2 separate regions of the Homo sapiens genome follow, and region 1 is linked to region 2. The links come from fine-mapping of genetic effects on gene expression. A gene starts in region 2. The other region holds a variant in brackets. All regions are shown on one strand. Distances are from middle to middle.

What was found. PIP is the estimated chance that this variant, and not a neighbour inherited with it, causes the effect. A credible set is the group of variants that fine-mapping cannot tell apart.
Region 1: its variant is the best candidate, but not a certain one, in a credible set for the expression of APLP2 in whole blood (INTERVAL, PIP 0.71).

Annotation. Positions count from the first base shown.
Region 1 is chr11:130,159,692-130,164,932 of GRCh38, forward strand. It overlaps ST14 (ST14 transmembrane serine protease matriptase), which reads left to right and starts at 91. Exons shown (of 19, transcript NM_021978.4): 1 at 91-369. The coding sequence starts at 289. RefSeq lists silencers at 1-89, 170-239 and an enhancer at 1,327-1,826. The variant AC/A (reference allele first, on the strand shown) is at 1,893.
Region 2 is chr11:130,067,447-130,072,924 of GRCh38, forward strand. It overlaps APLP2 (amyloid beta precursor like protein 2), which reads left to right and starts at 2,448. Exons shown (of 17, transcript NM_001142276.2): 1 at 2,448-2,636. The coding sequence starts at 2,532. LOC107984432 (a long non-coding RNA gene) reads right to left here and starts at 2,203. Exons shown (of 2, transcript XR_001748444.2): 1 at 2,018-2,203; 2 at 432-1,667. RefSeq lists enhancers at 1,139-1,639, 1,640-2,140 and silencers at 2,057-2,286, 2,677-2,806, 2,877-3,336.

The DNA of each region.
Region 1 (5,241 bases), 92 kb after region 2:
AGGTGAGCCGGGCAGGTGCGCAGGCGAGCGCGGCGGGCTGGGCGGGCCGAGGCCACACCCTGAAACTACCTGCGTGGGCCGGGCCGGAGTGTGAGAGCGGAGCTGCAGCCGGAGAAAGAGGAAGAGGGAGAGAGAGCGCGCCAGGGCGAGGGCACCGCCGCCGGTCGGGCGCGCTGGGCCTGCCCGGAATCCCGCCGCCTGCGCCCCGCGCCCCGCGCCCTGCGGGCCATGGGAGCCGGCCGCCGGCAGGGACGACGCCTGTGAGACCCGCGAGCGGCCTCGGGGACCATGGGGAGCGATCGGGCCCGCAAGGGCGGAGGGGGCCCGAAGGACTTCGGCGCGGGACTCAAGTACAACTCCCGGCACGAGGTGAGCGCGGGCCGGGGACCCGGGGCGCTGGGAAGCTCCTGCCCGCCCGACCCTGCAGCGCGGCGCTGGGCTCGGCCGGCTCCCCTGGCGTGTCCGTCGGTGGCCGAGCTCTGGGCGCACAGGTGGAATTTCCTGTTCAGCGGGTGCCGGGCCGCGGGCGGGCGGGGCTGGCCGGACCTTTGGTACCGGACCGGCTGCGCCCCGCCAGGGGGAGGCGGGAAGCCCCTGGGCCTTCCTGCGCCCTCGGTCCTTTCTTTCCCTGAGTTGAAAAAAGGGGCTCCGTCTCGGCCCCTCCATGACTCTCGCGCTGTTAGTGAACATCTGGAAGAAACCAGGGGCTTGGAGTGGGGTTATTTGGGAGGAAGTGAAATTTCAGGAGGGTTTGGAGTCTCAGCCATCCTTGGCCTCTGCAGAAAGTTTCTTTCGTCTCTCTCCTTCCCCGTCAAAAGGCGCTTTGGGACCTCGCAGAGGACAACTGGGAGGCCAGGGCTTTGGCTGCCATACGGGCTGGAGCTAAGAACTCCAGAGTTGGGCTTGCCTGGGCTTCTCGAGAGGGGATGGAGCCCTTTGGGAAGGCGGCTGTATGGGAAGGGATGTGGGAACACACATGTCTTGAGCCTTTTGCGAAGTACCGAAACAGGAAGCTCTTCTTTGGCAGAAAGAACAATGAAAGACCTATTGAAAGATCTCAAAAAGATTACATGTTCCTGTATGGAGTTGGGGATGGGTCGCTAGTCACTTCATTGACGGACCCACCTAGGTGGTAGTGCCCGGGCGGGACCAGCAGCCAGGTCTCTACCCTCTCTGTCCAAGGCAGACCCCCAGGTTTCCTGGAAGGCCAGGGCATACCAGGTCAGGGCGGCGCTGAGAGGCAGGGGCTGTGTGGCAGAGAGTTTTGCTCCTCTGCAAATGATGGCCTCCCTGCCCTGCCAACCCTCACTTTCTCCCCTCCTTCCGGGTGCCCCTGGGCTCCATAGTCTCCGCCGTTGCTCCCTAAGTCAGGCCTGATTTTGGTGCTGTCTCAGATCAATTCCTTTTGTCCAAGCAGCATCCCGACCTAGGGAGCTTGCAGAAAATCAGACGCTGGGGCTTTGGAGGCTGCCTGCACCACAGACAGGACCTGGGGCTGGGCTCTGCTATTTTCTCCACTTTTCACCCTCAGCAAGGAGGAAAGCTTCCAGTGGACCTGAAGGCTTGGGCCCTTCCCCTGGCTGTGCCTGTGCCCTGCTGTGAGGCAGATTCACCTTCTCTTCCTTGCTGTAATTGCTATGTTTGTGTCCTTGCTAATTGCCTACTTGGGGTTCTAGACTCCCTGCCTCTTCAGCAGAGAACCTGCTGTTTGGAATTTGTTATTTCAGGGCAGTCCGGTGCCCCCACCCCAAGTTTGTTCTCCCTGACTTCCCTTTCTAGGACTCTCCTGCCCACACGGGGAAAGCAGGGTCTTCCTGGTCGTGTGGTCCAGCCTCCTCTCTGAGCCATCTCACCACCTGACAAGCAGCCAGGCTGGGGCTCACCTTCCACTC[AC/A]CCCCAGGATCCCACATTCAGCGGACTTGTCTTGTCACCTGCAAGCCCTGGCTTTAGTTTCCCCCATCCCTGCTCATTTCCTCCTCCTCTGCGAAGCTCATTTGCTCTCTGCGCCCTTGGGCTGTTCCTTCCCCCTCTGCCATTTTCATTCTCTTGGCTTGCTCTTTGTCTTTTCTCCTGCCGAGCTTTATTGAACTAACTCAGTACCTAGTCCCATGGGTGAAGGGAAGGCTCTCAGAGACCAGTAAGATGTGGTTGTTTCCTTTAAAGAACATCCAGTCTTGAGAGCGAAACTAAGAGACGAATGCCAAAGTTAGCTGTGAGGCGGAGTGTCCAGAGGAAATTGGCCAAAGCTCATTTCCATGTCTTGCAGATTCCTCCCATCCCTGGCCTCACCAGAAATCCCAGTCCCTGGGATCACCCTGTAGTGTGTGTTTGCAGCTAGGATGTCCATCCCCGGCCGGGAGGTGTGGCTGCTGCCCCTGGGTTTATTATCTGGGTCAGCAGAGCCTGGCCCACAGGGTGCTGTTGTTTCTGGGTTCCTTGTCCCCAGTTGCATCCATCCGTGCACCCTTGTTTGGTGGTATTTGTATCTGGCTGTCCCCTTCCCAAGGCTGGTGGTGTGGCCCCTGCCCCACCCCTGCTGTTCCCATCAAGTGTTCTGCGTGGCCTTCAGAGTCCTGATGCACGTTACTGCATCTGGGGATGGTGTGAGCCCTGCCTGCAAGCAAGCAGGGAAACAGATGCCACTTCTTATGGCCATTAATGAGAGCCAGGGAGCCTGCCTCCCTGAGGGTCTTGATTCCTGTTGAGTATTTGATGGTGAATATGAAGCTGCCTTGACATCCACTGGTTCCTTTTCCGATCACAATTGCCCTAGGTAAGACTCAGCATCCCTTAGGCATCCAGAGACCAAGTTTGGAAAAATCGGATGTTGTGTGGCCAAAATCAGATGTCTAGGGGCCAGGGTGTACACCTCTGGCTATTCAGAGGGTCACCTGCTTGTTAATTTGTCAACCATTCAGGCATTCATTCACATAACAATATCTGCTAGGTAACCCACTGACTGAGCCTGTGCCAGGTGCTGGGAAATAGCAGTGAGGAAGACCCTAGACTCACAGCCCCTGTCCTTGGGACCACCCAAGGTAGTGTGGGGTACAGGGAACTGAATTCTGACTCATGAGTACTAGCTTCTCGATATGCACTGGGTGAGCACATGGCATCTCTCTAACCCAGGCTGGAAGGGCCAGGTCAGCAAATTAGGGCTGCAGGCATCTGTGATGTGGTGGCAGGAGGTAACATGCAGCCAAGACCCGGGGCCGCCTTGTCTAGCCACGTGATCTCAGAGATGTTACTCAATATCTCTAAGCCTTGGTTTCTGTGGCTATAAAATGGTGATGACATATATGTTCCAGGTTTGTTGAAAGGATTAAGAGGGGTACTTTACATGAAAGCCCTTTGTAAGTTGCAGTGTGGTGTTCAAATGATGCAGCTTGAGTTTTTGAGTTGAAAGGGACTTGAGACAAGCAAGAAGATCGTATAGTATCAGTAGGTCGCCTGTCGAGAGGCTGAGAACCCAGGCTGTCAGTGGGGCCCTGACCTCACAGAGGAGCCATCCTGCCCTGCCAAACACAGGGAAGTGCCCCCAGGATTCAAGGAACTGCTCGCCAGCAACAGAGACCTCTTCCTAAGACCTTCTGATTTTCATTCCCCTGCTTTACCCAGCTTCTAGGAGAAATATCTTTCTATGAAAAGAAAATGTGTGCCAGCTGCATATCCCTTTCTCCTTCTCATCCCCTGCCCCTCCCACCATAGAAAATTAAACTTTTATTTTGTTTTGTTTTTTAGACATGGGGGTCTTGCTATGTTGCCCAGGCTGGACTCAAACTCTTGGGCCCAGGTGATCGATCCTCCTTGTCTCAGACTTCTAAGTAGTTGGGATTACAGGCGTGAGCCACTGTGCCCACATAAAACTTTAGAGAACTGCCTTTTTTGTTCTCTAGAGCATGTGCTGGGCAGGTGTGTGCAGTGGGTGAGGAAGAGGGTTGGGAAGGCAGAAAGCAGCAGGAAGCTAGGATTGTCCTGTAGGTGGGGCTTCAGCTGCTGGAGTGGACCGGAAATCTGCCTTCTCCAGGGGCTTTCTGGAGCCTTCCCTCTGCCTTGGTCCTGAGAACACCTGGAAATTCCTCGTTTAGGAGTTGAGAAAACTGAGGAAGAGGAGAAGATGCCCCTAGTTTGATGGCTGCCTTCGCCTGCTAGCAGTGGAAATGGTCAGAGGGTGGACCTGCTCGAGCCGACTTGCTGGCCTGTTGCCACGTTGTCACCGGCTGCGGAAGGAGAACGAGTCACAGCTCCCTCCCCCTACCTGACCCTCACTCTGCTCCCTGGGAACCAGACTACCAGACTGCCTACTGCTGTGGCCAGTGGCTTCTGTCCCTCGGAACACTGTGGCCCTCAAGTTCCCTGATGTCTGCTCCTTCTCTGGTCTGTGGTTCTGCCAAGGCTGGTGGCTCATGTCTCTTTTAAAAGAGAAGTTGTCTTTGGAAGAGGAAGGGAAACGTGACAGAGTCCCCTGGGAGCCCAGGTCCTGAAGATGATGTTGCTTCTGATATTGTGCAATGATTACTGGAGTGTCTAGAATACTAATAATGATGAACACTAATAATCGTTAGCATTTATTGAGCATGGCTGGCTGCTTGTCTTTTTTCCTGCCAAGCTTCATTGAACTAACTGTGTACCTAGTCCTGGGTCAGGCATGGCTGAAGGGAAGTAAGATGTGGTCTTACTAGTCTTTGAGACCAAGTATTACCCTTCTCAGAGACAAGTGTTGTTATTACTGTTTTTTTTTTTTTTTAGACAGGGTCTCCCTCTGTCACCCAGGCTGGAGTGCAATGGTGCAATCATGGCTCACTGCCACTTTGACCTCCCGGCTCAAGCAATCCTCCTGCCTCAGCTTTCTCAGTAGCTGGGACTACAGGTGGGCACCAGCACGCCTGACTAATTTTTGTATTTTTTGTAGAGGCAGGGTCTTGCTATGTTGCCCAAGCTGGTCTTGAACTCCTGGGCTCAAGTGATCTGCCCACCTCAGCCTCCAAAAGTGCTGGGACTACAAGTGTGAGCCCCCACACCCAGCCTTATTATTATTATTATTATTATTATTATTATTATTTTGAGATGGAGTTTCGCTCTTTTTGCCCAGCTGGAGTGCAATGGTGTGATCTCAGCTCACCACAACCTCCGCCTCCTGGATTCAAGCGATTCTCCTGCCTCAGCCTCCCGAGTAGCTGGGATTACAGGCATGCACCACCATGCACGGCTAATGTTGTATTTTTAGTAGAGATGGGGTTT
Region 2 (5,478 bases):
TAGTAACGATCCTTCCATAACTTGAAAATGCAAATAAACTTCTTTCAAGACCTAAGTTTAGACTGAAGGCCCTCTAAATTATGTTCCTGTATTTCCTTGTACTATCCCATGATATTAAAGCTCAGTCTTGAAGATACAGTCTCCAAAGCATGAATATCCACGCCACTGAACTCAGATATCTCACTTGCTTTTCCCTGAGTTCAAGGCCCTGATTTTGTAGGTGAGGTAACAGGCCCCAGAGGGGCTACATGTCCTACCCTAGGCTCAACAACTCAATGAGGATTTAGGTAGTCACTTGATACTTTTCCCACATACTTGCAGATGAACCTGCACTTAGTAATACATCGCTTTACCCTCCTACCCCTTACATTTAAGTCACTTCATGCTTTTCACTATTGTACATTCATTTTAAGTTCAATCACACAAAGCGGTGCAGTGAGACAGGTTTTAATATTCACATTTGACAGAGAAGAAAAGAGAGTCCCAAGCGATGGAGGAACTTGCCGGTGATCATGCGGCTGTGTCAGTCAGCTCCGGCTGCTGCAACAAAATAACATAGGCTGGGGGGCTTCAACAACAGGGATTTATTTTTCACAGTTCTTGAAGCCTGGGAAGTCCAAGCTCAAGGTGCCACTTTGGCCCCTCAGTGATGGACCTCTTCCTGGTTTGCAGATGGCGGCCTTCTTGCTGTGTTCGCACATGGAGGAGGGAGGTGAGGGCTGAGGTTGGGGGTAGGGGACAGAGAGTGTGAGAGAAAAGCAAGCTCTTTGGTGTCTCTCCTAATAAAGGCACTCATCCCATCATGACCTGCTACCTCCATGACCTCATCCAAATCCGATTACCTCCCAAAGGCCCCATTTACAAATAACCATCACACTGGGGTTCAGCGCTTCGGCACACACATTAGGGGTGGGGACAAAATTCGGTCCATAGCAAGAGCCAAATTCATGCCAGTTCCAGAACTAGTATCAGCACCCAAGATAACTGGGTTCAATAACACTGGGCAAACATTTATCGAGGACTGCACTGTGAGGGGCACTGCGGCATGACAGACCCAAGTCTTGTCAGTGACCTGAGAGAGGTATGGAATAACTAGGGAGCGAGTGCCACAGTGGGAAACATCCCTCTGAGCAATCAGAAGCGATATTTCAGCCGACTGAGCCGAGGAACAGTGAAAACGCTTCCAACAGGCAGATGTTGGGGAGAGGACATTGCAGGCGCAGAAGAGTGTTAGGAAGGGCTGTGAAATGGAAAGGTGTCGTCTTGGAGGAATCGGGCAGAGCCAGTTTACCCACAGGGAACTGGGCATGTAGGGGAGAGTGGTGCAGAATAAGGCTGGAAAATCCCGAGTTCTTACAGGCGCACTCGTCTACTCCGCGGACAGTCTCTTCCTTTCTATTGTCAGCGTCCTGGGGGTAGGGTTGTGTTATGCATTTAGTTGAACCTGAAGGGACTAGTCCAGGTCTCTCAGAAGGCAGTACCTAACTCACAGGCGACTGAAAGGAAACAAGGCCAGCGGAGCCCTGGCGGTGGCGAGGCTGTGCCAATTGCTAAATGGGGCAGCAGGACGTTTTTCTCTACTGAAGTGGCAATGCCGCGGAGCAGGAAGGCAGAGTAGCAGGTCTCCCGCTAGTGCGTCTCAACCGAAGAAGCGGCGTGATCTCTTCCTAAAACACACGAGGAAGGGGGCCTGGGCTGTGAGGCCGGCGTGGTTCTTGCACCCCTGGTCTCTATCCCTGCCTGGGCAACTGCTGGGAAGGAAGGGTCGGCAAGAGGCCTAAAGACCGGAGGCCAAGGGTGCGGAGCGCGGCCGGACTCAGAGGCGAGGACCCGGCGGAGAGGCCTGGGCGGAGCAGGGCGGGAGAGGCGCGCCCTGAGTAGGGCTCGGGGGAGGACGATGGCTGCCTCCTGCGGTCCTCCCCCTGCCTCGGGGGACGGCCCTTGGCAGACCGTCCCGGACTCCTAATTCATCCTGTTTTTAATAAAACCATTTCCAGAATCAAAAAGAGGGCGGTACCCAAAGGAGTCTGAAGAATGCCCAGCAGGGGCAGGGGAGCGGGGCGTGCCCGTATCGGGAGGCTGAAGGCTGACGGACCAGCGCAGCAGGGACAGATAACCGCGCCGGGGGGCGGAGGCCAGAGCCAGCCCCGCGCCCACAGGGTTGCGGCCCCAGACCCGCCGCGCGCACGCCCCCGCGCCTGGCGGCCACAGGGTCCGGAGCGGGGGCGGGGCCATCCGCGGCCGGGGGCGGGGCCGGGCGGGGGGCGCGCGGTTGGACCGGGCGGGAGGAGCAGGCTCTTCCATCTCCTGATTGGGTCTGGACCGCAAGGGGGCGGGGTCTTGAGGGGTTCTGCGGGCCGGCATTGGGAGCCGCAGAAGGAGGGCGTGGTAATATGAAGTCAGTTCCGGTTGGTGTAAAACCCCCGGGGCGGCGGCGAACTGGCTTTAGATGCTTCTGGGTCGCGGTGTGCTAAGCGAGGAGTCCGAGTGTGTGAGCTTGAGAGCCGCGCGCTAGAGCGACCCGGCGAGGGATGGCGGCCACCGGGACCGCGGCCGCCGCAGCCACGGGCAGGCTCCTGCTTCTGCTGCTGGTGGGGCTCACGGCGCCTGCCTTGGCGCTGGCCGGCTACATCGAGGTGGGGACCGGGCGAACGCCGGAGAGTCGTCTCCTTCGCCCGCCGGAGGAGCGCGGACTGCGGGCGGGCAGCGGGGTCCGCGGCAGGGCGGGCCGGCGGTGCGGCGCCGGGGGTCCGGCTCTGCGGCGGGTCTGGCGCGCCCTCCCCCGCCCGTCCCTGCTTGGCGCAGTGCTTAGCGCTGGAGGTCGGGCTGCCTCAGCCGCCGCAGAGGCCAAATGAAAGGCGTCGGGGCTGCTGGGGGCGGCCGTCCGCCTCGGCCGACCCAGCCCCCAACCCGCCCGCGGCGCCGCCACCTCCTCCGGGGACCCAGTGCCCCCGGGCGCCCGCCCCGCCCTCCCCCGGGACAATGCCAGGGCGCTCCTCTCCCGCCGGAGTCCGCGGCTGGGCTTTCTCCAGGGGCGGCCCCGCGCGGACCCCGTACGCTCCCTCGCGCGGCACCGGGGCCTCGGCTCCGGGCCTCCCACCTGCGAGCGGCGGGCTTCGCCTTTGTTGCCAGGTGGACGCGGCCCCGGCCTTCGCGCGCGGCAGGGATGCTGCGAGCCCCGGGGGAGCTCCCGCGCCAGGCCGCCCGCTGCTCCCTCTGCCGCCTGGGGCCGGGTCGCGGACGCGCATTTTTTAAGTGGCGCTGTTTGCCTGCGTCCGTAGACCGAGGAAACCCGCTCTGGGTGCGTTGACCGCTTTCGTGAGGGTTTCAGTGAGTAGGGAAGGTGCCCGCGAAGGCGTGTAAACTGTTGGAAAAATCGTCCTCTTCGGGTGTCAGAATTCCATCAGTGGTTGTGCTTCGAGGTCGCACCCTGAGCATCCCCGCTGCGAGAAAGGCGAAGCGGCAGGGCCGGGGGTTGGGGAGGCCGCGGGAGGGGGCGGGGGCGGCGGGGTCCGCGGTGCGGGCCGGAGCGGGCAGCCTTGGAGGAGCCCTGCTGTGGCCGAGGGAGACGGCGAGCTTGATCTTTACTTCCCTTCTCGAAGTGGTGCTTGAACTGCTGGTCTGGAATGTGTAGTTCTGGTGTCGTTTATTTCTTCTCCCTCTTCGCTCTTTTAAAAATTACAACTGGTTTCTGCATACTTAGCTAATTTCAGAGAGACCTGAAGACTGGATTTGATTGGGCATTAATTGAGAGCTTTCTTTTAAAGACCTCAGGTTTAGAATATATTTACTTCTACAGAATGTTCAAGTATTTCCACGGGTAAAAATAAATCTAATAAAAAGCCTCTCTGATGGAACGGCTTAACACCTTTGTATTCATCCAGTTTAAAGCTTTGTGACTGTGAGGGTAAGAAAGGAGTTCAGCTTTAAAGAGAAATAGTTAACGTTTATCTACAGAGGATTTTGGATTGCGATTGTTTCAGTGTGTCCACACAATGGTCAGAGTTGTATCTGTGATCCCTGATATGTCGCATGAAAACAGCTAGGTGAGTGAGATGGGAAGAAAAAATAAAGGCTTTCGTATGGAAGATGGGACTTCACTAGTGGGTCGGGTGTCAGAAACCATCGTTCACACTCGCACTCCACTTCCCACTGCTATGACTAATTTGAGGCATTAGTGAATTCACAGTAGAAGACTCAGCAGTTTTAAAGAATTCGTTAATACTTGTGTAGCGGGAAAAAATAATATGAGAATTCATTGTTGTGTGTTAAATTTGATTGTTAGCCACAGCGTTGTTCAGTTGAAAAGTATGGTTGAAGAAAGTAGGAATTAAACATTTCTGAAAAATGGTTTTATGGTAACTCCTGTTCTTTGGAGCTGTATTTTTGCTCACACTTACTAAATGATCTTTCAAGGGGCCTTTTGTCAAGCTATCAGAATTTTATTCATATGAATATAATTTGATTTTGTTTATTTGCTGTCAGGCAAGGGACTGTCGAAGCTTAATTTAGATGAGAGTGGCCTAAATCAGGATGTCTTTGGGAAGGCCCTGATTGAGATTAGCGAAAGGGATTCTGGCCAAATCCCTGATCAAGTTGCTTGGCACAGAATTATTGATTGGCAAATCTTTAGTGTTGCTTGGTGTTGACTGAATTAATCTCTTACACCTGTTTAAAAAGAAAAAGCTCACCTCTGGACTCAGGGTCACTTCCTCTCTTAAATCCGAGACAAGTTCTCCTGTGTGCATGCTCCCATTTGGGACTGAGACAGTATTGTGCTGAAACCCCGCATACTGTGCAGTGGATGACTAGGCTCCTGAGAACCGGAACTTGAGTTTGTTCTGTCACATTTGAAAGAAAGAAGGCCATTTGATTGCCAGTTTTCTGGAAACTCAAACCCAAATTAAAGGATGTCAACTGAGGCAGAGTAGAGAAGGCTTTGTGTTGGTGTTTCTGACAGGTGGTATGGGAGATGTGTAATTGTACCTTGGAGAGAAACCTTGGTGTGCTTCTGATAGGAATATCGTCTTTTTTTTTTTTTTTTTTTTGATACGGAGTCTCGCTCTGTCCCAGGCTGGAGTGCAATGGTGGGATCTCTGGGCTCACTGCAACTTCCGCCTTCCGAGTTCAAGCGATTCTCCTGCCTCAGACTCCCAAGTAGCTGGGATTGCAGGCGCCTGCCACCACGCCCAGCTAATTTTTGTATTTTTAGTAGAGACAGGGTTTCACCATGTTGGCCAGGCTGGTCTGGAACACCTGATCTCAGGTGATCCACCTGCCTCGGCCTCCCAAAGTGCTGGGATTACAGGCGTGAGCCACAGCGCCCGGCCCGTTATTTTTATCATAACTATGTTTTAAAAATCTTTTGATAAATACGATAAACTTCAGTTTTATCAATTAGTTCCTCCTTTTGTAGAGGGAATTTGTTTTACCATCTAAAGCCAGGCTTTCCCAGGGTGTAGCCACAAGCCACATGTG